Regions from separate parts of the Homo sapiens genome. Here all the other regions are linked to region 1. The links come from fine-mapping of genetic effects on gene expression. A gene starts in region 1. Each other region holds a variant in brackets. All regions are shown on one strand. Distances are between the middles of the regions.

Region 1 (10,197 bases):
TGATTACTTCAGACTAGTCTCTTACAAATGTTACTAAACACAAATATTATACATAAAAGGCCATCTTCATTAAATAGATTAGAATGAATTACTCCTTCAGCTACATTCCCACTGTAAGAGAATACATTCTTGGGGAATATATTCTGTGTATATGTATTATGTCTTATTTTATGTTTTTATCATTTATATATATTTTTCATTTTTAATCTTTTCTACTTAATAGATTTATTTATATTTATACTTTTATTTTATACTCATTTTTATTTACATGGTCTCTGTAGTTATTAGATAGTGAGCTCTTGAAAGATAAGGCTAGTATTATGTTCATTGTCATTATCATCTACAATTATGTTACACAAACAAGCACTCAAATGTTCATTACAATGACTGGAAATCATTTGAACCATTTAACTTATTCAGTGTCTATTATGTCAGGGAGTACAGCAATGAATAAAACAGACCAAAAAAAAAAAAAAAATCCCTGCCCCATAAAGCTTACATTTTGGTGGAGAAAGACAGATAGTAAACAAATCAATACACAAAATATAAAGTCTCTGATCTAGTGATGAGAAAAATAAAGCAGGGGAGTGAGATTAAGCTATTACCAAAGGGGGTGGCACTCCCATTTTACATGGGGAGGAAGGAAAGATCTCAAGAAAAGGGAAATTGGGGTTAGATTAAAGAATTTGGGCCAGGCATGGTGGCTCATGCCTGTAATCCCAGCACTTTGGGAGGCTGATGTGGGAGGACTGCTTGATTCTAGCAGTTCGAGACCAGCGCGGGGAACACAGGAAGACCTCATCACTATAAAAATTTTTAGAAAAAATAAATTATAAAAAAAAGAAAAAGAAAAAAAGAATTTGAGTAAAAACTATAAGAAGGGAGGGCAATCCGTGTCTATGTCTGGGGCGGAGCTCTGCAGGGAGAGGCAACACAAGCATCAGTGCTCTGAGGCTGCAGCAGGAGAGGTGTACACAGAACAGCAGGGAGGCCAGTGTCAAGGCAGTGAGCAAGCTGGAGAGTGCAAGGGAAGGGGCCAGAGAGGTGAATGGGGTTCTCTAGGCCACCTTGACTTTGAGATGAGAAGAGAGCTTTGAGTGAAGGGGTGGCTTTGCTTACATTTTTAAAAGTTCAGTCTGGCTTTTTCATTTTGTCTTGGATCTTTGAGGCTGCTAGAACAGAATCCCATACACTGGGTACCTTGTCAACAACAGAAATAAAGTCCAACATCAAGGCACCTGCAGATTCGGTGTCTGGTGAGGGCCTGCTTCCTGGCTCATAGGTGATGCCTTCTCTATGTGTCCTTATATGGCAGAAGGAGTGAGGGAGCTCTGTGGGGTCTCTTTTATAAGGACATGAATCCCATTTATGGCAGCTCGGCCCTCATGACCCAAACACCTACCAAAGGCTCCACCTTCAAACACCTTCATATTGGGGATTAGGTTTCAACATATGACTACTGGGGGCACCTAAACATTCAGTCTATAGCAAGTTTGTATTAGGGTACAGGGGGACAAGAGTGAAAAGAGGGAGAACAGTTAAGAGATTAGTGTAAGAATCCAAGTAACAGATGATGGTGGCTTGGACCAGGACACTGGCAGTGGGATTGGTAAGCAGTGATCAGATGCTAGATATATTTAGAACAGAACTTACAAGGAGTGAGAAAAAGAGAGGCAGCAAGAATGATTCCAAGGTATTTGGAGTAACTGGAAGGATGGAGTTATCATAATAGAGATCGGGGAGACTGAGTGCACAAGTTTGGAAGGGAAGACCAGCAGCTCTGTTGTGGATATGTTAAGTTTGAGATGCCTATTGGAGATCTAAGTGGAAATGCAAATAGACATTAGACATGAACTCTGGAGTTCAGGAGAGATCCAGGTTGGAGATACAAATTAGGGAGTTTTCAACCTATAAGTGTTATTTAAAACATTGAGACTGCCTGAGCTGACAGGGAAGTTAGTGCAGACAGATAAGAAGTCTGAGGACTGAATCCTGGGGTACCCCAAGCTAAGGTATCCAAGATATTAGAAAGGCAAGGAAGGAGGAAAACCAGTGTGAGGCACCACAAGGACAATGTGTTTCAAGAAGGGAAATGATCAACTGTGCAAATATTGCTGGGAAGTCAAGAAGGAAGACTTGAGATCAGGACTGAGACCTGGCCCTTGGATTTGGCGATATGGAATTTAATGGAGAGTTGATAAGAAACGATTGGAAAACCTGATTAGAATGGGCTTGAGAGAGTTGGAAGAGAGGACCTGGAGACGTTAGTAGTAGCAAATCTTTCAAGGGTCTCCGCCAATGAGTCATCGGGAGGTAGCTGGAGAAGGAGTGGAATCAAGAGGGTTAGAGATGCACCCCCCCCCACCCCCTCATAGCCAGGCGCGGTGGCTCATGCCTGTAATCCCAGGACTTTGGGAGGCCGAGGCGGGCGGATCACGAGGTCAGGAGATCGAGACCATCCTGGCTAACACGGTGAAACACCGTCTCTACTAAAAAAAAAAAAAAAAAAAAAAAAATTAGCCGGGCGTGGTGGCGGGCGCCTGTAGTCCCAGCTACTTGGGAGGCTGAGGCAGGAGAATGGCGTGAAACCGGGAGGTGGAGGTTGCAGTGAGCCGAGATCGCGCCACTGCACTCCAGCCTGGGCGACAGAGCGAGACTCTGTCTCAAAAAAAAAAAAAAAAAAAAAGCCCCTCACCCTCCACGCTGCCAAGAATGAGAAAATGGCATGCTTGAGGGAGATCTGGATGATCAAGTAGAGGAAAAATTTGGTGTTTTAGGAAAGGAAAGGGAGAATTGCGACAGTCTTTGGGGGGTGGCGCGTGAGGGGAGGGAGATGACCTGGTCCTAGGTAGGAGATGGGGCAGTCATTCCATCTAGGGGAATAGGAGGGACAGGACCGCCGAGTAGGAGGGCACAGATGATGGTGGGCAGTAAACTTGGGGAGGAAGTTAATTACCTAGCGGGATAATAGATGAGTTCTTTCCATTTTCCAAATGTTCCAATATGTATTACTACACAGTTTCACAAGATATTAAAGGAAACAATTCATTCCGACATACGGCTTGTATGAGTGAAAACAGGGAGAACGGTGAGAGCAGTTTTAAAACTTACTCCCTAAACGCACTCCAGGGTCGGAAGCGACCTCTAGGGGTTCATTTAGACCATTACTTTTTTCTTTTTCTTGCTCTTAAAAGTATAAAACAGCACGGTCCACATTTAATATTATTTTTAAAGAAACACGATCAGTTTAATTTAGAAAAGAGTATCAGGCATGTGAGTAAAATAAACATAAACCATCTGCAGTCCAAGCTGGAGTTGCTATTATCATGACTAAGAGTTTTCTCTCTAAATATATCATTCTCTATAGCACCATTAATATTTATGTTCATTCTGCTTCTTGAATGAGTGGTTTTATTAAACCAAGAGGAGGGACAACTAGTGGGCTATTTGATCCAGGTCTTCTTGATGCTTACATGGAGTACAAACCCCACATATTTTTCATTGCTGGTTTCACTTGATTTGGTGTTGTCACTGGGTTTCCTCTGCCTGGGATGTTCTCATCCCCTGGATTAATTAACTCACTTCCTCATGGGAGTCTTTCCAGACCTTCCAGGCTACCTTAGGGTCCCCCCATCATGCAAGCTCACACACTCCATGCTTCTTTCTGCCTCATCCCATTTCTCCCAACTGTCATGAAAGAGTCAATTCTGTCATTACTGTTTAATGTTTTTTCTGGTAAGTCATGAGACCCATAATGGCAGAGACTGTGTCTGGCTTGTTCACTGCTGTCTCCTTAGCACTTAGCTCAGTGCCCAGCACTTACCCTGTACTCAATAAACATTAATTGAATGAGAACACACTATCCTGCCGGAGACTCTTGCCCATGTTCCTATTCACATCTTTTGGATCCCACTGCAGAGGAGACTGAATTTCAGAGATGAATTTTTATTTCTAAAATACAGTTTGCAATTGCTTTAGGTGCATCTGTGACAGATGCAACAATTTGTCACAAAACTGTCCCAGCTATTCTTTCAATAGCACAGTCTTCAGGATTGAAGCGTTAAGTTTCCAGCTCTCCTGCAAAGAAACTCTTTGTGACAAAGGCTGAATCCTTAGATATAACCCTGACCTTATCAGACCATTTATTTCCCAAAATATAACTAAGGGAAAGACAGTAAGATGCCAATACAGGGGGCAGTATAATGAGACCATTTCACATTGTGCAGCCTTATCCATGGGTCCTAACCCATACTGTCCCCTTATTTCCAGATTTGGTAATATTCTGGTGCCTCTAGGTCTTAGTTCAGCAACAGTACCACTAAAATGGACATGGTGGTAGTATTTATCCACCTGAGGTCTTTAGGCCAGCCCAGCCTCATCTTTGAAATTTTTGTGAGTGCTTCTATTTACTACCAGAGACTGAGAACAGGGGAATGGCTGGTTGTCAAATGTCACTCTGGTCTATAATCCCTGGATCCTAGACATGTGACATGGAATGGAGTGGGAACAGAGTGAAGTGCTCTGAGCAGGAAGTAAAGCTTGTCTCCAAGTGTACCCGGAATGTCTGTTATCATACCTTCTATAATCTCCTACATACAACTCCCCCAGTTTAATCTCTTGGTATTATAATTTTTGGTGTAGTACTTTTGATGCATGCCCTAAAATAAATTCTCTTCTATTGCTTGTCCAAAGGTAGCAGCGTTTTCCTAAAAATCACAACTTTAAACTTGGTTGTTCTGGAGGCAAGTGTGATGAGTAAGTCCACTCCATAAGAATCAATAAGAATTTCTTTTATTCTAGCTGGGCGTGGTGGTGAGCATCTGTAGTTCCAGATACTCAGGAGGCTGAGGCAGGAGGGTCACTTGAGCCTATGGTTTTTGTTTGTTTTTTTGTTTTGCTTTTTTTTTTTTTTTGAAACAGGGTCTCGCTCTGCCACCCAGGCTGGAGTGCAGTGGCACAATCATAGCTCACTGCAGCCTCGACTTCTTGGGCTCAAGAGATCCTCCCACCTTAGCCTGTCGAGCAGCTGGGACTACAGGCATGCGCCACCACGCCCGGCTAATTTTTTTGATATTTAATAGAGATGAGGTCTTGCTATGTTGCCCAGGATGTTCTAACTCCTCAAGTGATCCTCCTGCCTCAGCCTCCCAAAGTGCTGGGGTTACAGGCGTGAGCCACCGTGCCCAGCACATGTCTTCTAAAAGCTGCTGTTTCTTCCTTTTTCAGGAGTTCTTTCCCATACTGTTCTTCTGGATGACTCCTCGTCATCCTTCGGATCTCAAATGAAAGGTCATTTAGAGAGGCTTGGCCTGACCATACAATTCAATTAGTTTCTTACCCCTTTAGTCTCTCTCATAGACCCTGTTATTTTCCTTCATCTCATTTATCACAAGTCTTCATATATTTATTGCGTTGGATACATTCAATTCTGTCGATTTTCTTAGAATGTAAGGTTTCCAAGGGAAGGGACTTCGTTTTGTTCACTTTTGTATTCCTAGAACCTAGCACAATGCCTGACACATAGCAGGTGTTCCATAAATATCTGCGGACTGACTGTCTATTTCACTTATCCTTGTTCCTTGTACTGCATTTCAGTTCTCGCTACTGCAGTGTAACCTCCAAGAGACAGGAGAAAATCATAATACCCCCCTCCCTCCATCACTGAGTGATACTGAGACGGCGTCCTTGCACGTTTGAGCAGCTGCTGCCTTCTCCTGGGAGGCTGTCAAGTACCCCAAGGTGCACAATAATTCTTTTAGTAATTGCCTGACTGAGGCAAATCAGTAGAGCTGTCAGAAATGCTTTCAAACTTAACATTCATTGGGTTCTTGGGCACCTGAAATTGCAAACAATTGCATTACAATTAAGTGAGAATTAGCAGAATGTTACAGTTCTTTAACAATTTGCGTAACAAACCGAGGCGTCCTACGCCATCTCGCTGAAATGAAATTCGGATGTAGACACCCTTGCGCTTCAGGACTCTACGCTCTTGCAGCAGCTCCTCTGCCCAATGGGGGGCGGCAGCATCTCAGTAACTCACTCGAAAGACGGGTAGGCGGGAGGAGACATTCGCGTTCAAAATCTTTTTGCCTCTATCCGCTCGCCGTAGCGCTTTAGCCCGCTCGAGTTTCAATGCGCGTTGTTGCTTAACGAAGCAGAGTCCTACACACTGTCTGCTGCTCTCCTGATCATGGCTTCTCCGAGTTCTTTCACCTACTATTGCCCTCCATCTTCCTCCCCCGTCTGGTCAGAGCCGCTGTACAGTCTGAGGCCCGAGCACGCGCGAGAGCGGTTGCAGGACGACTCGGTGGAAACAGTCACGTCCATAGAACAGGTGAGGTGGCAGGACTGGGCGAGGCGCCCGCGCGATGTGTTCTGGGAGCGCGAGTCCCGTTCGTAGGGCCGCCCGGGTGCGGAACTCACCGGGGAACTACGACTCCCACAGCGCACCGCGGTGCCTTTCCTCTGGGAAGCTCCGGGCGCCCAGGCTTGGGCTTCGTCGTGGAGCGTTTGCGCGGCCAGCTTGGGGAAGGGTCGTTTCAAGGTTGGGCTTGGAGGAGAGGGCAGTAGCCGAGTCCCCTCTGCCCTAAAGAACGAGAAGAATCGTGTTCTATGCCTGGAGGACAGAGGCAGCCCGTGCGGGTCGGACAGCCCACTCTGTTCTGCCAGTACTTCGGGAGGTTCTGGGGTGCATAGTGCACTTTTCCCAACCTGCCCTCAGCTTCTGGAGGCAGAGAGCAGGGCCAGGCTGCTGTCATGCCGTTTCACGATCTGTTTAATTTTTGACCTACAGTGCCAGGTTTGGGGGCCCGCCTCGTGGGTGGGCATTTTGGTAGTCATTCAGCCATTTGAGCACCAGCTACGTGTCGGACACAATATTAAACGATGGAAGTACAAGGAAATAAAACAGCTCCTGACCAGGAGCCTGGTTGGGGGACAGGCAGGAAAACAGTTTGGAAAGTGATCTAATAGAAAGAATGGATTTTGGACTACTAATCATTCCCTAAGGCCTAGAAGTAGGATCGAACCTATCATTTTGAAAAGTGTTTGGCGAATGAGTATATATTCATATGCCCAAAACCATAGTTTTGTTTTTCTTCTTATTCCCTAATTGGAATTGTTCCCAAGGTTGCTATGTGGAACTGTTTATCCATCTGTCCCTAGGAGAAGTGGTTAGGATAATTCTTAACACTAATAAATGAACATTCTGCTGCTTACTGAAATAAGATCTCTTAGTGAGATCAGTCTCCAGGCTTTACCTTGGAGAGACCTGTTTTGTATTTCCTACTTTAAGTTGGAAGCCTGTACTTTGGCAAAATTAGTAACAATAATTGTTTTATTGTACAGTTATGACTAAATAGAATTATAAATTTATAACAGAAACAAGGGCTTGATACGTGGTTATTCACAAAGTAGCAGAGAAAATATTTTAACTGGAGATTTAAACTTCATGGAATTTAGGGTAGCAAAGGAAATCCTCACCTCTCGAATCTAGCTAATTCTCCAGGTTGGTTTGCCTACCAGTGTGTCCCAGGGAAGGCTGACTGCAAAAGATTGTAAAGAAATTTCCCATTGATGAAAAACCTACAGGATCTTTGCAGAATTCCTAAATGATGGATTGCTGAGTTGATTCAGGTCAAGTGTTTTACTTATTATCTGACCTTAGACTATGGGATTGCCTTTTTTTTTTTTTTTTTTTTTGAGATGGGGTCTCGCCCTGTTGCCAGGCTGGGATGCACTGGCTTACTGCACCCTCCGCCTCCCGGGTTCACGCCATTCGCCTGCCTCAGCCTCCAGAGTAGCTGAGACTACAGGCGCCCACCACCACGCCTGGCTAATTTTTGTATTTTAGTAGAGACAGGTTTCACCATGTGGCCAGGCTGGTTTTGAACTCCTGACCTCCAGTGATCTGCCCTCCTCGGCCTCCTAGAGTGCTGGGATTACAGTCGTGAGCCACTGCTCCTGGTGCGAGTATCTTTCAAATCTAGACCCAACGGTATGGCAGACAGTAAAGAATCTTATATTTCTTTTTCATGTTGTTATTCCAGCACACATTATTAGAGTCTAGGATGAACAGTTTCAGGTAGTAGGATGATAATGTTGTATCTCATTTTTGTGGCCTTCCTCACTGTTTTAATAATCATGTTAGTGACCATTTATTGAGTCTCAGCACAGTGCTAAATGCTCTCCATATGTGGTATCATTCAATCCTTTCACTTTTTATGGATGAGAAGACTGAGGTTTAGAGACCTACCACATTGGTAGGTTAATGATACATTCATCAAAAGTAACAACCTTGTTAGGAGGAGTTGTTTACAGAGGATATACTAGTACTCTTTCAGTTTTAACTAAAGCTTCCATTTACTGATAGCTCAATTTTGTGCCATTGCCAGTAAAAACAAATTGATGGCTGACACCTGTAATCCCAGCACTTTGGGAGTTCGAGGCGGGAAGATCACCTGAGCCCAAGAGACCAACTTGGGCAACATAGCAAGACCCTGTCTCTACCAAAAAAAAAAAAAAAAAAAAAAGTAGCTGAGCGTGGTGGCATGCACCTGTAGTCCCAGCTACTTGGGAAGCTGAGGTGGGTGAATTGTTTTTGAGCTCAGAAGTTCACAGATGAGCCATGATCGAGCCACGGTACTCTAGCCTGGGCAACAGAGTAAAACCCTGTCTCTTAAAACAAAAAACGACTATACTGATTTTGGTACTGGCCTGGGCAACATAGCAAGACCCTGTGTCTATTTAAGATGAAAGCTTTTCAAATTAAAAAAAAAAACAAACAAAAAATAAATGCTTGTTACCTGCTTCCTATCTGATTATCAGAAGACTCGGTTTATTTGTTAAGCAATAATTTGGTAATAGGAGTTAAACCTATAAATAGTGGAAGGAGTCCTTAGCTGTGAGTCGTCTGTTCCATTCGTTGATTCTCATTCATTCAGCAAATACTTGAGCGCCTTCTACGTGCCAGGCACTGTTCTAGACACTCGGCATAAGTTGTTAAACAAAAGAGGCCAAGTTGATGCCTTTATGAAACTGTTTCTAGGCCAATGAGGCAGTCAATTAAAAGAGTTAATATCTATAGCTATCTCAATATAAAATGTTAATTAGAAACGCTGTGGAGAGTAACACCTTGGGATAGAGGGGATAGGGTGTGTCAGGAATGGGTGGGGTGGGAGCAGGGGAGGTCTTCATATAAGGTGTTAAGGGGAACCCTCTGGTGACAACACATGTGATCTGAGACCTGAAGTCTCAGATGAGGGAGGAAGCCATCATGGATCTGGTGCAAGAGTATTCTGGGCAGAGAAAGCAGCAAGCACAAAGGACCAAGGCAGCAGAATGCCAGGTGAGCAGGGGGCTTAGCAAACCAGAGAGTAGGAGATGGGTCGGATCATGTAGGGTCTCATTGGCCTTTGGAAGTACTTTAAAATACCCTGACTGAGATGGAGAGCCACTTGGCTGTATACCTGCCATTTACTGCCCCAGATTCACTTGGCCCTTTTCTAGCCTGCTCTGTAGATGTGCCCCAGGAGGGGGCCCTGCACTGACAGGTTGCCTTGCTTTATGGCTGCGGGCCATGGGAAGTATTGCTGGGGGTGACCGAGAAGGAGAAGAATGAGACCACTGTATTTCTTCCCTCCTGCAGGCTTGTGTGGGGTGGGGTTTCCTTAGACTTAAGGTCACATTTCCTGTCATGTGCCTTCTCTGCGGAGCTCTTTGTCTCCCTCCCTCTCCATCCTTCACACCTTCAGGTCTATGAGGAGTTCAGGTACCCCTGATTTACCAGCTCCAGATACTGCATTTTCTCTTGTGGTTTCCCTACACCTGCCCACATCTTTGTAAATAGTTCCTTTATAAACTCTCCTCAAATCACCCACTTTGTGCCATCTGTTTCCTGCCAGGACTTAGACTGATCCATGATCAGAGAGTTTTGAGCAGGGGAGTGACACAGTCTGACTAGCATTTTAACAGGCTCATTTAGGTTACTGTCAAGAGTAGATGGTGGGGAGTGAGGGTGGATACAGGGAAACCAGTTAGGAGGCTATTGCAGTATCCTGGGAGAGAGGTGACGGTGGCTTAGCTCACAGTGACGGTAGTGGAGGTAATGAGAAATGGTCAGCTCTGGATATTTTTATGAAGGTCTCTACCTTGCTAAGCTGTTTTGTTAATGCAGATGCAGGGAGGGCCTTTCATGAC
Region 2 (10,197 bases), 46 kb after region 1:
ATTCTCACGGCGAGTCAGTGCAGCTCCTCTTATGTTTACCGCAATTAAGGTGAGCATGAGAGCAGCCTGCCTCTCTTCTGTTCTCCCAGCCATGGAAGCAGGCTCCATTAAAAATGTGTTTTTCAGCCGGATGCAGTGGCTCACACCTGTAATCCCAGCACTTGCAGAGGCTGCGGCGGGTGGATCACTTGAGGTCAGGTAGTTCAAGACCAGCCTGGCCAGCATGGTGAAACCTTGTCTGTACTGAAAATACAAAAAATTGGCTGGGCGTGATGGTGCACGCCTGTAATCCCAGCTACTTGGAAGGGTGAGGCAAAAGAATCTCTTGAACCTGGGAGACGGATGCTGCAATGAGCTGAGATCACACCACTGCACTGCAGCCTGGGCGACCGAGGGCAACCCCGCCTCAAAAAAAAAAACAAAAAAACAAAACTTGCTTCTTACTGGTGGAGTAGAAATCAGTGGCCCACAGAGGCTTAGGTGGCAATGGGAGTGAGAAGACCTCTATTTACATGTTCATGATAGGCCTAGGTGATGGATCCTGACTAGGATGGTTAGTGTGGAAAGAAGCAGTTGAGCACCATGTTTTGGCAAAATTCAAAGGCTGGGAGGTTCCCAAAGGCAAGGAGGAGGAGGCTGGTACCACAGGTCCAGGGCAGCAAGTTGAGTGGAAAGTCTGGGAAAGGTTTGTGTGGGAAGCACGGGAGACTCTTACCCCATAGCTACGAAAGTCGGTTTCTTCCCAGCCTTGTGTTCCCTGCTTCATGACCAACAAGCGCTTAAGTACGAAACTCAGAGGAGGGCAGACAGAAATGATGATAGCTGGAGAGAGAATTAAGCCCTTTGGGGAGAGGTTATATTCAACAAGTGGGAGGAGAGGTTCCCCTCAACTTTTGAGGGAGTGGGGGATCATTGGAAAGGCCTGGAATCTAGTGGGAATTTGGTGTTTTGACATGAATGCTCTCTGACTTTGTTTTTGCCCTTTGGCTGTGTACCTAGTGTGTGTCAGTTCCTGGAGCTGTGTCAGAGCCCAGAAGGTGGCTTTGGAGGAGGACCCGGTCAGTATCCACACCTTGCACCCACATATGCAGCAGTCAATGCATTGTGCATCATTGGCACCGAGGAGGCCTATGACATCATTAACAGGTACAGTGAAAGCCAGCAGTGACAGAAACCTAGAGGAGTTCCCCGCCTGCTGACACGCACTGACTGTTGCCTCTCCTACCTCTTTCCCTGTTTCTCAGAGAGAAGCTTCTTCAGTATTTGTACTCCCTGAAGCAACCTGACGGCTCCTTTCTCATGCATGTCGGAGGTGAGGTGGATGTGAGGTGAGTGGGGTTTTGCACAGGCTGCCACATCAGTTGACTCTAGAGCTCATCTGCCATTAGAGATGCCAAGCCTAAGGAACATCATGGGGAAGCTGCTGCTTTGTCCCAGAATGACACATGGGATGACATGTCAGTGACACGTCAGAATCATTCAGATGTGATGCAGATGTCCTCAGGTGTCATGATCACTTGACTTATTTTATGTAAATGTGAAAATATAAGAAACAAATGCTTTTGTTTTAGAAATTAAAAATACATTTGTTTGGTACAAAATGATATACCACAATATAAATAACTGTATGGTGTAATGTATTCCTTCACCTCTCTGAGATAGGAAGGGAGGGGAAAGTCCAGCAGGGCCTCAGTAAATACCTTCTGAGTGAATTTGATGAAATCATGAGAATGTCTAATCCCTGAGGTCCTCCTGAGGCACATGAGAGTTTTTCTGGGAGGTGCAGAGAGCCTTGTGGGCCGGGAGAGTGCAGTGCAATAAAATCGCATTAACTGATTGGTGCCAGTTAGCTCGAAATTATTATTTTCTTCCATAAGTGTCTGATGTACCAAGCAAGTTGCTTCCTCACCTGGCAGATTACTTATGAGGCATACAGGGAATTCATTGAATAAGCCATTTCTCTAAGACAGTGGCTTATTGAGATTTTATGCCATTTTCTTATTATTTAGTTGAGAAATACATTTTGTGAGGTTTCTATAGCAAAGCTGTCTTACTGCCTATGTGTAAATGGGTTTGCTTCTACACAAGTTGATTAATAGTCTGGCTTAAGCATCTGGTTTAACCATTGGTTTGAAAGTATAGGGGAGGAAAAAACCACGAACATTGTGGAGCATAAAATACATTACAGATAATAGGTAATCAGGCTGCAAAGGCCTTTAGTTCAAGATGTTCTTCTATCTCTAACTTGTCTAATCCAACCAAAAAAATTAGATTAGGATCTGTGTATACCAGTGAAACCAGTAGAACGACTGAGGTAAATCAGTATGTGTTGATTCTTCTTAAGGAAAATGTTAAAAGAGTTTTTTTCCCTCGTGTTCACTACATTTTCGTTCCTGTTCTGTTGCTATTCCCCCAAAATATGCACAGTCTTGAAACGCAGCTTTTAAAAACCTACTAAGATTATTAGGCAAAAGCAAACAAATCATAGCAAGATCCTTTTGGTATTTTATCATATACCTTTTGCAGCTGTGATTATTTGCTATCTTATTCATTCCAGCACTTTTTTTTTCCCTATGCTCTTTATTTATATGTTCTAGATAAATGCTAGGAAACTTCTCCAGTAAGGCAGCTTGGTTCCCCTGCCAAGCACTGTAGCCATATTCTTCCCTGACCTTTGCTCTTTGGGTGATGCTCTGCCATTCGTGCCCGTGCTTTCTATTTACATAAAGGATTAAAGATATGAATGATAGAGAAAAGCTAGCAGATTGCATCCATTTTCCTTGCTTTGCCTGGTTTCTAGTACCCCGATTCCATCATTTTTCACTTGGCATTTCTTTCATTGTCCTTTGCCTGGAAGCATCAGCCAGTCCTCAGGAGTGCTTGTTTGGGTGGATTTGACTTGGAGAAAAGCAGCAGTGATGGGAGAGTTTGACATCTGGAGACTAGCTCGCTGCCCTTCTGGGATAGACAGCAGTCTCTGGATGATCTTTCTGCTCTGTTACACTGCTGATAGTTTCAGAGATGAGCCTACTCAAGGGTCTGTAGTTCCAGTGTATTGTAAAAAATCAAATCACAGTGAACTCATAGCAAGCACTATTTTTTCTCAGTTCTTAAGAAAGGAGACCTCCTTTCTAGGTTATATAATCTAGATCATTCTGTGAGGATAAGGTGGAGGCAGGGATCTAGCATTTGCAGAAGTTTGGTGAGAAAGCATGTGTTGCTCAAGAAAGGACAAGTTCAGTGTTGAAGTGTAGATGGCCTGGTGGGCAGGGGAGCAGTGGAGCTGGAGGGACAGGCTGGGAACAGGCTACAGAGGCCCTGAAATCTCCTATGGAGTCTGGAGTTTAGTGATGTGATCTGATTTGTATTTTCTTAGAAGTTTCCCAATTGCAGTGATGGACTGTAGTGTTCCAATAAAAGCCCTCTGGTTTCAGGGCTGGAGGGAGAGAGAGCAGGAAGACTGATCCAGGTTGAAGAAGGCTTGGATTTGGGTGATGGCAGCAAGGATGGAAAGTTAGTGGACAAATTCAAATTTGAGAGCTGCGATGACTGGGTGGAGGGAAAGGGGGAGAAATACATGAAAAGGTTGTATTACGTTTCCTCCCCATCTCAGCGTGAGACCTGGGACTCCTGTCTTCTGTCATCACTTCTTAGTCCTCACACTTGTGAGAGGCAAACTGTATTATAGGTCGCCTCCTACCTCACAAGTCACAATAGGATTCAAGAGCAAATGCATCTGAGCCTCTTTAAGAGGCCTACAATTGCAAGGAAATTAGACAGATCTTCAAAATTAGCTGCTGGTAGATGATCACATTTGGCATTGGCACTTGTGACTCTTGTGTGCTCCCAATGCCTGCTGGTGGAACTAAACTTCCACTGTGCCTTTGGCTGCTAAAAATGCTGGTAGGATCATAATGCATGCAGCTTCTGCAGAGACTTCTTTGGAATACCTCAGTAAGTCTGACTTCATGTTATATCTATACTGAGTAAGATGGAAACCAGGGCCGAGCGGCAGTGGCTCATGTCTGTAATCTCAACACTTTGAGAGACTGAGATGAGAGAATCACTTGAGGCCAGGAGTTCAAGACCAACCTGGGTAACACAGCAAGACCCTGTCTCTACAAAAAATTTTTAAAAAATTAGCCAGGTGTGGTGGCATGCATCTGTAGCCTCAGCTGCTTAGGAGGCTGAGGCAAGATCAGTTTGAGCCCAGGAGTTTGAGGTTGCAGTGAGCCATGATAGCGCCACTGCACTGCAGCCTGGGCAACAAAGTGAGATCCTATCTTAAAAAAAAAAAAGAAGATGGAAACTAGGCCCTTCTTTTATGTTTCTTAGGAGCCCTTAGGAATATACTTTTTGTTTGTTTTGTTTTGAGATGGAGTTTCTTTCTGTTGCCCAGGCAGGAGCGCAGTGGTGGGATCTTGGCTCACTGCAACCTCTGTCTCTGGGGTTCAAACGATTCTCCTGCCTCGGTCTCCCAAGTAGCTGGGATTACAGGCGTGTGCCACCATGCCCAGCTAATTTTTGTATTTTTAGTAGAGACGAGGTCTCACCATGTTGGCCAGGCTAGTCTCGAACTCCTGACCTCAAATAATCCACCTGCCTTAGCCTCCCAAAGTGCTGGGATTACAGGCATGAGCTACCATGCCTGGCCAGGAGAAGGATTTTTGAGCAGAATTCAAACCAATGATTTTTGTCTTCCCTGTGCCGGGTATTTGAAAAAACCATAGAGGGGAAGGAAAGGCAGTCTGTGTGTGTATACCATGACAGAGGGAGAAGCTGAAATAAAATGTGCCCCGAGAAGAATTAGGGCTGGGAGGATGGAACAGCAAGAATGATCCTAAATCAAGTATAATAATTTTTTGTGTTTGTTTTTTTTTTTGAGACAGAGTCTCACTCTGTTGCCCAAGCTGGAATGCAGTGGCATGATCTTGGCTCACTGCAACCCCCGCCTCCCGGGTTCAAGTGGTTCTCCTGCCTCAGCCTCCCAAGTAGTTGGGACTACGGGCACACGCCACCATGCCCAGCTAATTTTTGTGTTTTTAGTGGAGACGGGGTTTCGCAATATTGGTCAGGTTGGTCTTGAACTCCTGGCCTCGTGATCCACCTGCCTCAGCCTCCCAAAGTGCTGGGATTACAGGCATGAGCAACTGTGCCCAGCCTAATAATGCTTTTTTAAAAAATAGCCCGGGCGCGGTGGCTTATGCCTGTAATCCCAGCACTTTGGGAGGCCAAGGCAGGTGGATTGCTTGAGGTCAGGAGTTTGAAACCAGCCTAGCCAACATGGCGAAACCCCATCTCCACTAAAAATAGAAAAATAAGCCAGGCATGGTGGCATGCGCCTGTAATCCCAGCTACTTGGGAGGCTGATACAGGAGAATTGCTTGAACCCAGGAGGCGGAGGTTGCAGTGAGCTGAGATCATACCACTGCACTCTAGCCTGGGCGACAGAGTGAGACCCTGTCTCAATAAAAACCAAAACAAAAGCAAAACAAAAAATATAGACGTGCGCCTTTTTCATTTAACGTGTGTGTGTGTGTGTGTGTGTGTGTGTGTGTGTGTGTGTACTGGTGAGAGGTTTGAAATCAAGGCTCTTTTCTCCCTCTAGAGGTTTAAGGACTGTATTGGAGTGGACTCACCTGTTCCTATCCTTGTTTGATCTATTACAATTTGGTGGCCTGTTTTGCAGTTTATCTGTTGCAGAAAAAGTATAGTTAATCTTTAATGTGTCAAGGCTGTAAACAGAAATCCTGGCTCTGAAACAGTACTAACATCCAAATGAATGAGCATATCAGAAGTACCTGAATGATACCATAGATTTATGGCAACCATTATAGGTCTTTGAAAGAAGAGCTGAATCCACTTTTGACATGAATTGATATGGCTGTTATTTCCTCTGATGTAGATTGGACCATGTGGAGGTAGGGAGAATAGAATGTCATGTTCTTTCACTGAAGCCATGCCGTGAGCAACTCTATCCAAATAGAATGTCACACCTCTCAGTTGGAGACCCAGGAGGACTGACCGTGTGCCAAGAGTGAGGACAGGAGGTGATTACAGCTTACTAGGCAAGGCGAGCAGTCCGCCCGCGGAGTTCACTGAGCCTCATTAGCTCTTCCGTAGAGCTTAATGTGTTTCCCGTTTCTGTCTTTCCAGAAGCGCATACTGTGCTGCCTCCGTAGCCTCGCTGACCAACATCATCACTCCAGACCTCTTTGAGGGCACTGCTGAATGGATAGCAAGGTGAGAGAAGCCAGGGTTTCTCCTGGCCTCTTGGAGAGCAGGCGGTCACGACACTACTTCAGAAAAATAAAGAAAATGCAGAGGGACTTGGAAGGAAATACAAAAATCACAGGAGATCCATTAGGGTTATCTAATGATTTTTTTAAATACTTAAAATGTCTTCTTTTTTCCAAACTTTCTTTAATGTTATATTATATTTTAGATTGGCAAAGATAAAAAACTTTGGTAAACAATATTAGTGAGAGCCTGAATTGATTTAACCAGTTTTTAGAGCAATTTGACAGTATGTCAAAGGTGCCCTTGCGTAGGACCCAGTAATTCCACTCCCACAGAAACCCTTGCACACACGAATGGGAGAGAGGAGCACAGGACTTGTTTATAAGAGCCAAAAGCTGAAAGCAGATTCAGTGCTCATAAGCACGAGATGGGTAAGTGTGGTATAGTTGCATCGGAATATAATGTAGCAGTGAAAATGAATGAACTAGAGTTACATGTATCAATATGGAAAAATCTCTATGTTGAGTTGAAAGAATGAAAAGAAAAAAATACAAAAAAACCATACAGATTAGCACATTTACTTAAAATTTGAAACATGCAAGAGAATTCTGTATTGTTTCTGAGAAGAATCATGTGGTAATAATATAAAAACATGTATACGAAAGATAAACACCAAATTTAGCATAGTGATTCCCGCTGAGGGGAGAGCAAAGGAAATGAGATAAGTCTGCATAGGA[G/A]ACTTCAGCTGTAATAGTTAACAACAACAAAGACCTGAAGTGTATATGGCTAATTCTAAGCTAGGTCTTAGATACGTGTATGTTCTATATTTTGTTTGCTGTACTTTCCTGGATGCTCCAAATATTTCATAGTTTAAAAAAAGCAGGCCAGGTGCGGTGGCTCACGCCTGTAATTCCAGCACTTTGGGAGGCCAGGGCAAGCGGATCATGAGGTCAGGAAATCGAGACCATCCTGGCTAACATGGTGACACCCCGTCTCTACTAAAAATACAAAAAATTAGCTGGGCATGGTGGCGGGCGCCTGTAGTCCCAGCTACTCGGGAAGCTGAGGCAGGAGAATGGAGTGAACCCAGGAGGCGGAGCTTGCAGTGAGCCGAGATCACGCCACTGCACTCCAGCCTGGGCGACAGGGCGAGACTCCATCTCAAAAAAAGAAGCAAAAGGTATAGTAGACACATATATACTATGATGGAATGATAGCCAAGCTGAGATACTGTTTTAGTTAAAAAAATTTTATTTTTATCAAAGTAGTATGTATTACCATATAAATATAATTTACAGTGATACCAGATGATATGCTGAGATCATGTTTACTTTTTTGTATGAGTTTCATTTTCCTGGAGTTAATGGATATATCATGAATGTACTTATGAATTCCTTCCCAAATTGTCTGTCAGAGCTATAAAAAATTACTCTAAACATAGTCAAACCCTTCAGGTAACCTGTCTCTGTGCACACGTGCGTTTTGAGTTGCCCCTTCTGGAGCCCTCTGCCCTCCTGCTTCAGTCTGGACAGATTGCTCTCAGCTTGCTACACAGCAGGCATCCCGAAGCTTCCTTTCAGCATGAAATTCACTTCATTTCTCTCCTTCGTTGAAGTCCCTGTCCTCCTTTTTCTTGGTTTTCTTATTTTCATGAAGTATTGTACTCCAACAGATCCCAAAAAAGGGTACCTGGGAGATACATTTTTAATATCTTGCATGTATCTGTGTTCTAATCTCACACTTAATTATTTGGTTAGAGATTTCTAACTTGGCAATGGTATAAACTGTAGTCTTTCTGAATTTTGTAAGCATTGCTTCATTATCTTCTGGCTTCCAATGTCATTGTTAATAAGGCTGATAATAGTAACCAGAGTTCATTGAGGACTGTCATGCTCAATGGTAAGGCAGCTATAGTTGAGAGCTGGAGAGTAGGCACTGCCTGTGTTTGGTTCTCTTTTATATTTTGTGTTTCTCAGCTGAGATTTTCCATCTTTTTATTCTTTATGAGTGCATTTTTCTTCATTTTGCTGTGGTAAGTATGGAATTATAATGTCTGCTTTAAATTGCTTGTCTGGGAATTTCCACATCTGTGTGTCCTGGAGTTGGCATGTCAGCTCCATGAGTCTTCCTGTGCTGAGTGATGTTGTGTTGTGTCCTAGACATTGTGATATGATGGTGGAGGTGTCATACAACAGAACGGTATGGATTCTGTTGGTTTGCCCCAAAAGGGGTTGATGTTTTCAGTTTAGCAGGCAGTCAACTTGGTCAGACTCAAGCTACAAACTGTCACTCATGCAGCAGCTCAGAGCTCAGTTCTTGCTTAGAAGTTGCTTTGTTTCCCCAGCACGTATGTGGAAACTTGAACTGAGTTTAAATGCAGAATTTGGGATTTTTCTTCTTTGACTTTCCTGTTTCTGGATTCGTCCTCAGTTTCTGGCAGCCTGCATCTTCCTGCCAGAAGGATGGTTGGCTTCCCATTAGAGTGTTGGCTGCCCGCCCTGACCCCTGACCCCTGGCCTGCTGCTGCCGCCCTGGGCTATGGCTGCCATCCTGAGGGCAAACCAGAGAGAAAAAGTTGTGGGGGAAGGGAGGGACTAACTGCATGCTGTTCTCTGTTCCAAGTTTCAAACTCCACCAAAATCTGCCTGCCCTTTTTCAGTCAGCTGAACCCTCAGGAAGCTGTTTTTTTGTATTTTGTTCAGTGTACAGCTGTCATTTGCAGGGGGGTTGACTGGTTAGGCACAGACTAGATACGGAACTCAGACAGCCTGGGTTTGAATCCCAGTTTTGCCCTTTCTTTCCTCTTCTCTTCCTTCTTTCTTCCTCTGTCTTTCAATTCTCTCTTTCTTTTTTTGAGACCGAGTCTTGCTCTGTTGCACGAGCTGGAGTGTAGTGGTGTGATCACAGCTCGCTGCAGCCACCACCTCCTGGGCTCAAGCAATCCTCCCATCTCAACCTCCTAAGTAGCTGGGACAACAAGCGCGTGCCACCATAACCAGCTAATGTTTAAAAAAAAAATTTGTAGAGATGGGATCTGTCTGTGTTGTCCAGGTGGGGCTTGAACTCCTGGGCTCAGGCTATCCACCCACCTTGACCTACCAAAGTTCAAGGATTACAGGCATGAGCCACTGCGCCCAGCTTTTTTTTTTTTTCTTTGAAGACACGGTCTTGCTTGTTGCCCTGGCTGGATTGCAGTGATATGATCACGGCTCACTGCAGCCTTGACCTCCTGGGCTCAAGCAGTCTTCCCACCTCAGCCTCCTGAGTAGCAGAGACCACAGGTGTGCACCACAACACCTAGCTAATTTTTAAAATGTCTTGTAAAGACAGAGTCTCACTGTGTTGCCCAGGCTGGTCTTGAACTCCTGGTTTCAAGCAATCTTCCTGCCTCAGCCCCACAAAGTGTTGGAATTACAGGTGTGAGCCACGATGGCCAGCCTGCCATTTCTAATTAGCTTTGTGCTTGGACAAGTTATTCCACTGCTCTGTGTCATAGTTTCCTTATATGTCAAGTGGTGGGATACTGAATTTAATTAATTTAATTTAATTTATTTATTTTTTGAAAGAGGGTCTCACTTCGTCACCCAGGCTGGAGTGCAGTGGCGTGATCTTGGCTCACTGCAGCCTTGACCTCCTGGGTTCAAGTGATCCTCCTGCTTCAGCTTTCCAAGTAGCCAGGACTGCAGGTGTATGCCACCACACCTGGCTAATTTTTGTGTTTTTAGTAGAGACGGGGTTTTCCCATGTTGCCCAGGCTGGTCTTAAACCCCTGAGCTTAAGCAATCCGCCTGCCTCAGCCTCCCAAAGTGCTGGGATTATAGGCGTGAGCCACCACACCCAGCCTTTAAATTTTATATTAAGCAGAAATACAGAGAAATCAAATGGATTCCACTGTGCTGTACTACCTGGCAGTGCCATTGTGATTCTTAATTCTCTGTATGTTTTTTTCTTCTGTCT
Region 3 (10,197 bases), 57 kb after region 1:
TTTATTTATTTATTTATTTATTGAGATGGTGCCTTGCTCTGTTGCCCAGGCTGGAGTGCGGTGGTGCAGACCAGCTCACTGCAACCTCTTTCTCCCAGGTTCAAGCGATTCTCCTGCCTCAGCCTCCCAAGTAGCTGGGATTATAGGCGTGCGCCACGACACCCAGCTAATTTTTACGGGGTTTCGCCATGTTGATCAGGTTAGTCTCAAACTCCTGACCTCAAATGATCCTCCTGCCTTGGTCTCCCAAAGTGCTGGGATTACAGGCATGAGCCCCCGCACCTGGCCAGCCTTTTAAAAATATGACATCCCATTAGTACATTTGATTGTCTGACTTTTAAGAATACTTTGAGGCTGGGCGTGGTGGCTCACGCCTGTAATCCTAACACTTTGGGAGGCTGAGGCGGGCGGATCACGAGGTCAGGAGTTCGAGACCAGCTTGGCCAACATAGTGAAACCCAGCCTCTACAAAATATACAAAACATTAGCCGGGTGTGGTGGTGGGTACCTGTAATCCCAGCTACTCGGGAGGCTGAGGCAGGAGAATTGCTTGAACCCAGGAGGCAGAGGTTGCAGTGAGCCGAGATCGCACCATTGCACTCCAGCCCAGGTGACAGTGTGAGACTCCATCTCAAAATAAATAAATAAATAAAAATAATACTGCCGGGTGCAGTGGCTCATACCTGTAATCCCAGCACTTTGGGAGGCCAAGGCAGGCAGATCACGAGGTCAGGAGTTCGAAACCAGCCTGACCAACATGGTGAAACCCTGTCTTTACTAAAAATACAAAAATTAGCCGGGCGTGGTGGCATGCACCTGTAATCCCACGTACTCAGGAGGCTGAGGCAGGAGAATCACTTGAACCCAGGAGGCGGAGGTTGCAGTGAGCCAAGATTGTGCCACTGTACTCCAGCCTCGGCATCAGAGCGAGACTCTGTCTCAAAAATAAATAAATAAAAATAAAAATATTTCATTGCATGGTTCGTTTCCATCTCTTAATCCTTCTTCTTATACTTTGAGAGATTCTCTTAGTATTTATCTTCTAATCCTCTTGTTTTTATTTTTGTAATCCTATTTTTAGTTTTCCTCCCTGACTACTTTTACTTCCTGACTACTTTTTTATCTACTCTCTTGTTCTTTTCTGGGGATATTTTGTCCTCTCAATAGTCTTACTTCATATAATATTTTATCTAAAGATACAACTTTAAAAAGTTTTCTTTTGCTCCCTGTCTTATTTCCTCCAATTTATTTTTGTTTGTTTTGGTCTCCTCTTTCATAGTAGAGACTGTGGTCAAATGTCTGGTACTCTACAGCTGTCTGTTCATATTTAAGGATCCAGCACTGAAAAGCTGCTGGGGAGCTCTGCGAGAGTGGGCAGGATCAAGCCATTCATTGGGGAATTCTCAAAGCAGTGTCTGTAGGGTTTTTCCCTTGGGCTTATCAGTTCCCTCAGAGAGGAATCTTCTAAATTCCTGCTTGGGGTATGAAACTGGCAGCCTTGTGTGAAATACACAGAGGAATGGGGCTGGGGGTATTGTGTTGAGATTACTGACTCTCACGTAATCACATTTGGTACAGTGCTCCCTCCTCCTCTTAGCTTGTTGGATATTCTGGAACTCAGATCCTTTTGATTAAACCTCTGAAACTTCCCATCTTCTGCTGGATTTGAGTAGGGGACTTAAAGGTCTGATTCTTATATAAGTTTGCAACCAACAAACTTGGTTCAGACGCATTCCACTTTGTGGAGGTTCCCTGTATCTCTAATCCTGGAGCCTTTTATTGGAGCAGATCACCTTGCTTTTTGTTGCCCCTCTCCCATCCCTATCCTTTGGGTAGGAAAGGTTTCTCTATTCTACTAAGTCAGTTATTTCTTGTCCTTCTTGTGTTAGTCCATTTTGTGTCAGTATAAAGGAATACCTGAGGCTGGGTAACTTAGAAAGAAAAGAGGTTTATTTGGCTCATGGTTCTGCAGGCTGTTTAAGAAGCCATCACCACCTGGCCTAATTATAATTTTTAAAAATAACGTTTATTTTTTAATAGTATACAGGTTCATTATAAAAACTTTTTGAACAAATAGAAAAACAAAAAGGAAAAATATTACTAGTAGACCTGTACTCAAAGATCACCAGAGGCCAAGTGCGGTGGCCCATGCCTGTCATCCCAACGCTTTGGGATGCTGGGGTGGGAGGATTCCTTGAGGCCAGAAATTTAAGACCAGCCTGGGTAACATGGCAATGCCCCATCTCTACAAAAAATACAAAAAATGGTCCGGGTATGGTGGGGCACGCCCATAGTCCCAGCTACTCAGGAGGCTGAGGTGGGAGGATTGCCTGAGTCCAGGAGGTTGAGGCTGCAGTGAGCCATGATCTGCAGTCAACCTAGGTAACAGAGTTAAGACCCTGTTTCAAAAATAAAAGATCACTAGAATCAACAATCACTCTTTAATTTTATTTTAACTTGATGGTTATCACTATATATATATGTATATATATGTATATATATGTGTGTATATATATATATGTATATATATGTGTATATATGTACATATATGTATATGTATGATTTTATAACTTTTTCCCAAAGAGTAATAATTTGAATTATTATGTTTCTTACACAAGTAGGCTGTTTCTAAGTGTCTGGGTTTTTAACATTTTACAGTTTTTATTATACTTACATTTTTTGGAGACCTAGTCTCACTCTTTCACCCGGGCTGGAGCACAATGGTGTGATCATAGCTCACTGCAGCCTCGAACTCCTCGCCTCAAGTGATCTTCTTGCCTTAGTCTCCTGAGCAGCTGGGATTACACATGGGTGCCACCAGGCCCAGCTTTTTTTTTTTTTTTTTTTTGAAAAGACATTTCCAAAAGTTAATTAGTTGGCATCTTTTCATTCATAGTTGTGATGGTTCACACCTTAATCTGAGTGAACTTTTTCTCTGCCACCTAGGATGGTCCTGGTCTTGTGTACGTCCACTCACTGGCCACTCATTCTGCTTTTCTCAATCTCTTCTTAGGTGTCAGAACTGGGAAGGTGGCATTGGCGGGGTACCAGGGATGGAAGCCCATGGTGGCTATACCTTCTGTGGCCTGGCCGCGCTGGTAATCCTCAAGAGGGAACGTTCCTTGAACTTGAAGAGCTTATTAGTAAGTATCTTTTGAGCCATCCCCCTCTCAGGCCCCAGGTCATGGTGATGTGATTGTACTCAGACATGCAGGCTTCAGGAGAGTTTGGCTATGGGAAGGGCTAAGAGAGTTAGCTCTGTTCCAACACAGAGGAAGGAGTGAGCAGCTGCTCTGTCTTGGCTCCCCCTTCTGCCTTTCTGTCTTCCTGCTTAGAGCTTTTTACATAGTGTGTAGACTACATAGACTGTGTGCTGCAGACATCTGGTGTGAGCAGAGTACCTTCCTTATACTTCAGTTTCGTAGAATTAGAGGTTATCGTGTGTTATAGAAAGAACCTCCTAAGAGGAAAAGTTACAAGAAGAGCTTTGCAGCATTTCGAAACCAAACTTTTATTACCTGCTGCACTGTGTAAACATTTAGTACCTACATTTAAATGAGTTGTTTAGGCAGAGCTGGCTAATTGCATTGAGAAGGCAGCCCAACATTTATGTCTGGACCCCACGCTCCTGGCCAGTATTCAGAAGAAACTCAGAAAGCAGTCAGCTTCAGGGAGTCACTAGATTGTAGTTAAATGATCAGTGGGTGCACAAACACACACACCTCCACGGCCACCAGGGAGAAGGCATTCCCCGTCATGTCATTTGGGGAGCATGTACCCCCTGACCATGACGTCAAAGCAAACCAGCTGCAACTGACATGCACCTCCTCTCCCTGAGTTCAGATGCCAGCCTCCCGTTATGCGGCCCATCGTGAGCTTCCTGGAGAGTTTCTGTTGTACCCTGTAGACATGTAACCAGCAGTGTCTTGCCTCCACCTTCAGAAAGCCTCCCCCGGTGTAGTCTTTTTAAAGATTCATGAAGGCTTGAAGGCTCATGCTGAAACAGCCAACTTTGTATGCTGAACTTAAGAGTTTCTCAGATGTTTTAAAATCTGAACACCAATAAGGCATGAAACAAAAAAGTCCCATCTCCCAGGCAGAGATAAGGAATGTGATTAGGGAGTGCCTCAGTTATAAAGACAGTGTTCTAGATTTGAACCCTGTCCCTACTACATTTGAGACATGAGTCCTTGGGCAAATTGTCTAATCTCTTTTAGCTTGATATTTTTTTCTTTTATAAGGTAGGGATAACAATCCTTATTTTTTTAAGGTTAAAGGAGAGAACATTTATAAACAGCCTGGCACATAGTAGGTACTTAATAAATGTTAGTGTCCCTCTAACCCACAGTAATAATCTTTTTGGCACAAGGGACCAGTTTTGTGGGAGATAATTTTTCCGTGGACCTGGGGTTGGGGGTGGGACGGGGGGTGATGGCTTCAGGATGATTCAAGTACATTACATTTATTGTGTACTTTATTTCTATTATTACA[C/T]TGTAATATATAATGAAATAATTATACAACTCACCATAATGTAGAATCAGTGAGAGCCCTGAGCTTGTTTTCTTTCAACTAGACAGTCCCATTTGGGGGTGATGGGAGACAGTGACAGATCATCAGGCATTAGACTCTCATGTAGAGCGTGCAACCTAGAAGCCTGGCATACACGGTTCACAGTAGGGTTTGCGCTCCTATGAGAATCTAATGCTGCTGCTGATCTGTCAGGAAGTGGAGCTCAGGCAGTAATGGGAGCAGTGAGGAGCAGCTGTAAATACAGATTAAGCTTCACTGGCTCACCCACCACTCATGTCCTGCTGTGCAGCCTGGCATGGTCTGGGGGTTAGGGACCCCTGCTCTAATCCAGACTACTCCCTTCCATTTGCTTTGGGAGAAGTAGGACCCATATCTGAAGTATGAATTCCTATAGCCCAAGGAAACAGAACAAATCCATGGGCTTAGGCACTGGAAAAAGTAAATTAGTCTGCTTAAAAACACTTAAGCCCTGCGGTAAGTAGAAATGAGGAACCGACTCCCACTGCAGCGCCTGCTTTCTCTCTGCCTGAGTAATGCTTAGCCCACTTCCATTACATGCTGGAAGCCCTGGTTCATTTAAGATCAACCGAGGATATATTAGTACCTGAACCTGCAGTACAGTGTTTTCTGTCTCTTTTAAGCATTTGTGACTGTGACTCTCTATGGGCAGGTGTTGCCTTGAAGAGGGAATAATCTAAACAACAGCTTTTAGGGGAGGGCTGGCCCCCACTTCCATCAAGGGTCCCAGTGGCTCCTTTCAGGACCTTTACCTAGTAAGACTCTAGAAACAGGAAGTACCCTCCCCTGTACCCTTTCAGTTGAGTGAGGCAGCTCTGTAAGTCCGTGGCTGGAACGGCCTAGGTGGTCTAGGGAGGGAAATGGAAATGTCATATCTGCTCAGCCAGTTGGTTCTGCTCATTCTGAGGGACCAAACCCATGACTATCTTGATCTTTGTAGTAGAGTGTGTTTAGAAAACTTGTAGATAAGCAAGGAATGGTGGTATCGTGTGTGACCGCTGAGTGACATCAAGACCAAGACCTATTTTACAGCTTCAAAGTAAAAGATTTTCTTATATCAGCCACAGACTGGGCAGAGTTGTCATTTGGTAATTAGAATGAATGGCTTCTGCTTTCAGGCCTGCTAGTGACTTGCTAAGAGACCTTGGGTAAATTTCCCCAGGTGCCAAGTAAAAGTCAGGAGCAGTTTGAGATCATCTGATGAAATGTAGTACCAGGCCGGGCACGGTGGCTCACGCCTGTAATCCCAGCACTTTGGGAGGCCGAGGCGGGTGGATCATGAGGTCAGGAGATCGAGACCATCCTGGCTAACAAGGTGAAACCCCGTCTCTACTAAAAATACAAAAAATTAGCCGGGCGCGGTGGCGGGCGCCTGTGGTCCCAGCTACTCGGGAGGCTGAGGCAGGAGAATGGCGTGAACCCGGGAAGCGGAGCTTGCAGTGAGCCGAGATTGCGCCACTGCAGTCCGCAGTCCGGCCTGGGCGACAGAGCGAGACTCCGTCTCAAAAAAAAAAAAAAAAAAAAAAAAAAAAAAAAGAAATGTAGTACCAAATTCCATTTATCTGCTTTTAATAAACTCCCCGGAGCAGGGAAGTAATGAGAAATGAGCTACTGGTAGTCTTGCCTTCAATTTCCAACTTAAGCCATGTTTATTAAGAGACTTTGAAGGTCTCCTTACAAACCAGCTTGGCCTCTTTATCTTCTCAGCACTGGCACTGCTTTGGAACCCAGGAAAAGGTAGTTGTCTGCCAGGCATTGAGCAGAGATCAGTGCTGGATGCCTCTACAGCGTTGGCTTAAATGCTTCACTCTGTGTCTATGGCAGTGTGGGGAGGGAAGGAAAGAAAACCAGAGCACCAAAACTAGAGTGCCAAGAAGCCACAAGATGGGAAACCCTCCATCCCACAGATTGACTCCTGGAGATTCTGTCGGGCTGGATTTTGTCTCTTTTAGCCTACAACTGCCTTTCCCATCTGTGTCTCCTCAGCAATGGGTGACAAGCCGGCAGATGCGATTTGAAGGAGGATTTCAGGGCCGCTGCAACAAGCTGGTGGATGGCTGCTACTCCTTCTGGCAGGCGGGGCTCCTGCCCCTGCTCCACCGCGCACTGCACGCCCAAGGTGAGCCTGGGGAGCTGTTCACTTGGGGCTGGATGATTTCCCTCCACTACTCACAAAGTCTGGAAGCCCAGCGTGCTTTTTTAGAGGGGTTGAAATGAGCTCTGTCTATCCTGGATTTTGAGTGCCCAGTGTGGAACCTCATGCCGTGGGGCATGCGAATGCAGAGTAAGATTTAGTTTCATTGGTTTAGTGTCATTCTTTGCTTCTTCAAATTGGCTGCGACAGAATGAGCTTCCTTGAAATTGCTACGGGGAGCGGGGAGGAAGTGGGCGCTGCTTCTGCGTTATCTGGAAGGAGCAGCCCACTCCTGTCCTGGGCTCTGTGGTGATTGCCACCTCCTCTGGGTGCAGGGCAGAGCTGAAAACCCTCAGTGTTGCAACAGTCACTGTTGCAACAGCAACAGGAAAGGCAACTGCGTAAAGGGGTAGAGAACCAGAACCCATGTGTAGGGGTGGGTTGTAGGGGTGGGTTGCCCCTACACCATGGAGAAGAGACTCGCCGTGTCTGACTGGCTGCAGAGTTGTCACTATTAGAAATGTTTTATTTTACATTCATTGAATAAGCCTAAATGGGAGTTTGTTCCACCTGCACCATTGGAGTAGAGAAATCCACGTTCGTTTCTGTGGGGTCTCAAATGGGAACGCAAAACCGAAGTAGTTAGTGAGCAAAAAGTCTGGGAACATTCTCTCTCTATCTCTTGAAACCTCAGTCTGCCTGCTAACTCCTGCACCATCTTTCTGGTGTACTTGATGTGAGAGCAGGTGTCTCTGAGTAGACCTGTGGGAGAGAGGAAGTCATGGGGCCCTGCTGGTTGCTGATCTGTTTTTGGAATGAGATCCCTGGGTCCAAAGAGAAGCTGTTCTTCGGACTTAGTTGGATAATGTAACTGCTCAAATGTAAAAGATGAGATTCTTTTCTGCCCCTCCCCATACTTTTTTTTCCTGTTTCTGAGCCCCCCACCCCCCGTCTTCCCCCCTCCCCGCCGCCCCCGAGATGGAGTCGTGCTCTGTCTCCCAGGCTGGAGTGCAGTGGCACGATCTTGGCTCACTGCAGCCTCCACCTCCCAGGTTCAAGCAATTCTCCTGCCTCAGCCTCCTGAGTAGCTGGGACTACAGGCGCGTGCCACCACACCTGGCTAATTTTTGTATTTTTAGTAGAGACAGGGTTTCACCATGTTGGACAGGCTGTTCTTGAACTCCTTACCTCAGGTGATCCGCCCACTTCGGCCTCCCAAAGTGCTGGGATTATAGGCGTGAGCCACCGCACCCGGCCCTGAGCCTCATTATTTAGTTTCTTAATTTCCTTTGAGTTGTTGAGTTGTGACCATTTCTGACACTGAATTAAAGTAAGCAGAGCCTCTGTCCCATTTTCCCGGCCTGGGCCCACTGGGCTTTAGGTGTCAGTATTAAGGCATATAAGGCACTTACCCTTGGAACACAGCAAGTGCACTGTCAGCAAGTGCACTGACTTTGGAGCCTGCACAGTCTCTGCCTTGACCACCAGTAGGGAAGTCAGGAATTCCCCAAGTCAAACATTTTTTATTTTAGTATTATTTTTTTTTGAGACGGAGTTTCACTCTTGTTGCCCAGGCCGGAGTGCAATGGATCACTGCAACCTCTGCCCCCTGGGTTCAAGTAATTCTCCTGCCTTAGCCTCCTAAATAGCTGGGATTATAGGCATGCACCACCACGCCCAGCCAATTTTGTATTTTTAGTAGAGACAGGGTTTCTCCATGTTGGTCAGGCTGGTCTCGAACTCCTGACCTCAGGTGATCTGTCCGCCTTGGCCTCCCAAAGTGCTGGGATTACAGGCGTGAGCCACCGTGCCTGGCCCAACATTTCTAAGATAGAAAAAAACTTGGGGTCATGGTGATCTCTTTATTTGGAACTGGTGAGGTCAAGCCCCTGGTAAAATGGTCAGTCTTTTACAAACCTGTCCCTGGCATGGATAAGACTCAGTAATTCTGCAATCCCAGGGAAATGTGGAATGAGCTATAACAGGAGCACCACCTGTCAAAGTCTTCCAGGGGGGCTGCTGGTTAATTGTTTCTTGTAGCACATGTTCTAGGGGGCTTAGTGGCATTCAAAGCTTTGTCTATGGAAAAGGGTGCCTATGAATCTTGGTGCTTCCAGCTTTTTTCATTGGCTGGGAGAAGGCCTGTGTTGTCTTCTCAGACACAGGGCATCTCTTGAACTTGGAACAGACAGGAGTCTGTAAAGAAGGGAAGTGTGTTGAAAGGAGGGCAAAATACTGACTTTGGGAGTCAAAAGGGGATGCAGTGTAGAAAGATAGTCACAATATATTGTGATCATATCAAAGCAATATGTGTGGAATCCCATTTTTAGTGAAGAGTTGACTACAAAAAATTCATAGAAAGTATCTAGGATGTGAAGTTACAGGTGATGTTTGCTTCTGTTTGTATTTTCTAATCTTTCTATAGTTAATAGGTATTTCTTGCATAAAAAAAGACAACAAAAGTTATTTTACAGAAACAGGGAAATTCTACAAACAAAACAAGCAAAAAGGTGCGAAAAATATTTATAACAAGTGATGAATGGCTAATTTCTTTAATTTGAAAAAAAATCATACAAACCAGTAAGAAATGGATGGACAACCCAACTGAAAAACAGGCAAAGGATCTGAAGAAAGAGGTCCCAGTGAAAGAACTGTCCTTCTTACTTTTTCTACTACAACTGCCACTACTACTGGTAGCGGAGTCTTCCCAAGCCCTCACTGTATGCCAGGGGCTGTACTGAGCATTTCACATATGTTTTCTCATTTAATTCTCAAAACAACCCTATGAAATAGGTACCATTGTTTACAGATGAGGAAACAAACTACAGTGAGGTTAAGTGATTGCTTTATAATACCTGATTGGCACTCACAAGGGTTAGTATGTGGTTGTGTGAATCCAGACTAGCTGGCATCTGAACCCTGCCCTGCTCATAACCACAGTAGGTGGCCATTAATCCAACGAAAAATTGTTTAGCTCACTTGTAGTAAAAGAAATGCTAATCAAAAGAGTGGCACTATTTGTTTTTATTATTGGATTGGCAGAGATTAAAAAACTTGATACCCTATGTTGGGGAGAGTGTGAGAAAACAGGTAATTTGATAGTGGGGATGTAAATAGGTTAAGTCATTTTTTGGAGGGCAGTTTGGAGACATCCATTTAAATTATAAGGGCACTTACCCTTTGAACACAGCAAGTGCACTGTCAGGAATTTACCTGCAGGGATATTAGCAAAGGATGTATATTGAAGTGGAGTTTCAATAGCAGCCTAAGTGCCTATCAAAAGGTTAAGGGTTAAATAATAAAAATCTCTCCAAACAGTAGCTGCATACCATGGGCTGATATAGAAAGCTCTGCAAGATACAACATGAAGTGTAAGGGGGCGGGGCCTGGAGCAGTGCCTGGGCACACAGCCCGAGATGTACACAGCTTTTCCTGGAACCCTACACAAAACCCCTTGAACAATGGGTACCTTTGGGAGAAGAGAAGCAGACAGAAGACAGAAGGAGGGAGACTTT

Alleles and levels. Positions count from the first base shown, and alleles are read on the strand shown. Sizes are in standard deviations (SD) of each study's normalised expression. Not every link is listed here.
For the expression in monocytes of the gene that starts at base 6,132 in region 1, allele C in region 3 goes with a higher level than allele T (large effect, 1.2 SD a copy in BLUEPRINT).

The links. PIP is the estimated chance that this variant, and not a neighbour inherited with it, causes the effect.
Region 2: its variant is fine-mapped to the expression of FNTB in whole blood (TOPMed, PIP above 0.99). The same link has a PIP of 0.9 or more in blood mononuclear cells.
Region 3: its variant is fine-mapped to the expression of FNTB in monocytes (BLUEPRINT, PIP 0.95).

What each region holds. Positions count from the first base shown.
Region 1 is chr14:64,980,764-64,990,960 of GRCh38, forward strand. It overlaps FNTB (farnesyltransferase, CAAX box, subunit beta), which reads left to right and starts at 6,132. Exons shown (of 12, transcript NM_002028.4): 1 at 6,132-6,334. The coding sequence starts at 6,191. All of the region lies in intron 3 of CHURC1-FNTB (CHURC1-FNTB readthrough), which reads left to right. It overlaps LOC107984655 (a long non-coding RNA gene), which reads right to left and starts at 6,350. Exons shown (of 2, transcript XR_001750792.2): 1 at 5,917-6,350; 2 at 4,776-5,836. RefSeq lists enhancers at 760-1,261, 9,765-9,884.
Region 2 is chr14:65,026,454-65,036,650 of GRCh38, forward strand. It overlaps CHURC1-FNTB (CHURC1-FNTB readthrough), which reads left to right. Exons shown (of 14, transcript NM_001202559.1): 7 at 1,000-1,146; 8 at 1,245-1,328; 9 at 6,157-6,243. FNTB (farnesyltransferase, CAAX box, subunit beta) reads left to right here. Exons shown (of 12, transcript NM_002028.4): 5 at 1,000-1,146; 6 at 1,245-1,328; 7 at 6,157-6,243. It also overlaps a transcript of MAX not described here. Among named protein-coding and RNA genes, the nearest start is that of MIR4706, 13 kb to the right of the region's middle. The variant G/A (reference allele first, on the strand shown) is at 6,978.
Region 3 is chr14:65,037,777-65,047,973 of GRCh38, forward strand. CHURC1-FNTB (CHURC1-FNTB readthrough) reads left to right here. Exons shown (of 14, transcript NM_001202559.1): 10 at 3,014-3,143; 11 at 6,535-6,667. FNTB (farnesyltransferase, CAAX box, subunit beta) reads left to right here. Exons shown (of 12, transcript NM_002028.4): 8 at 3,014-3,143; 9 at 6,535-6,667. It overlaps MIR4706 (microRNA 4706), which reads left to right and starts at 6,912; the gene lies at 6,912-6,993. It also overlaps a transcript of MAX not described here. The variant C/T (reference allele first, on the strand shown) is at 4,492.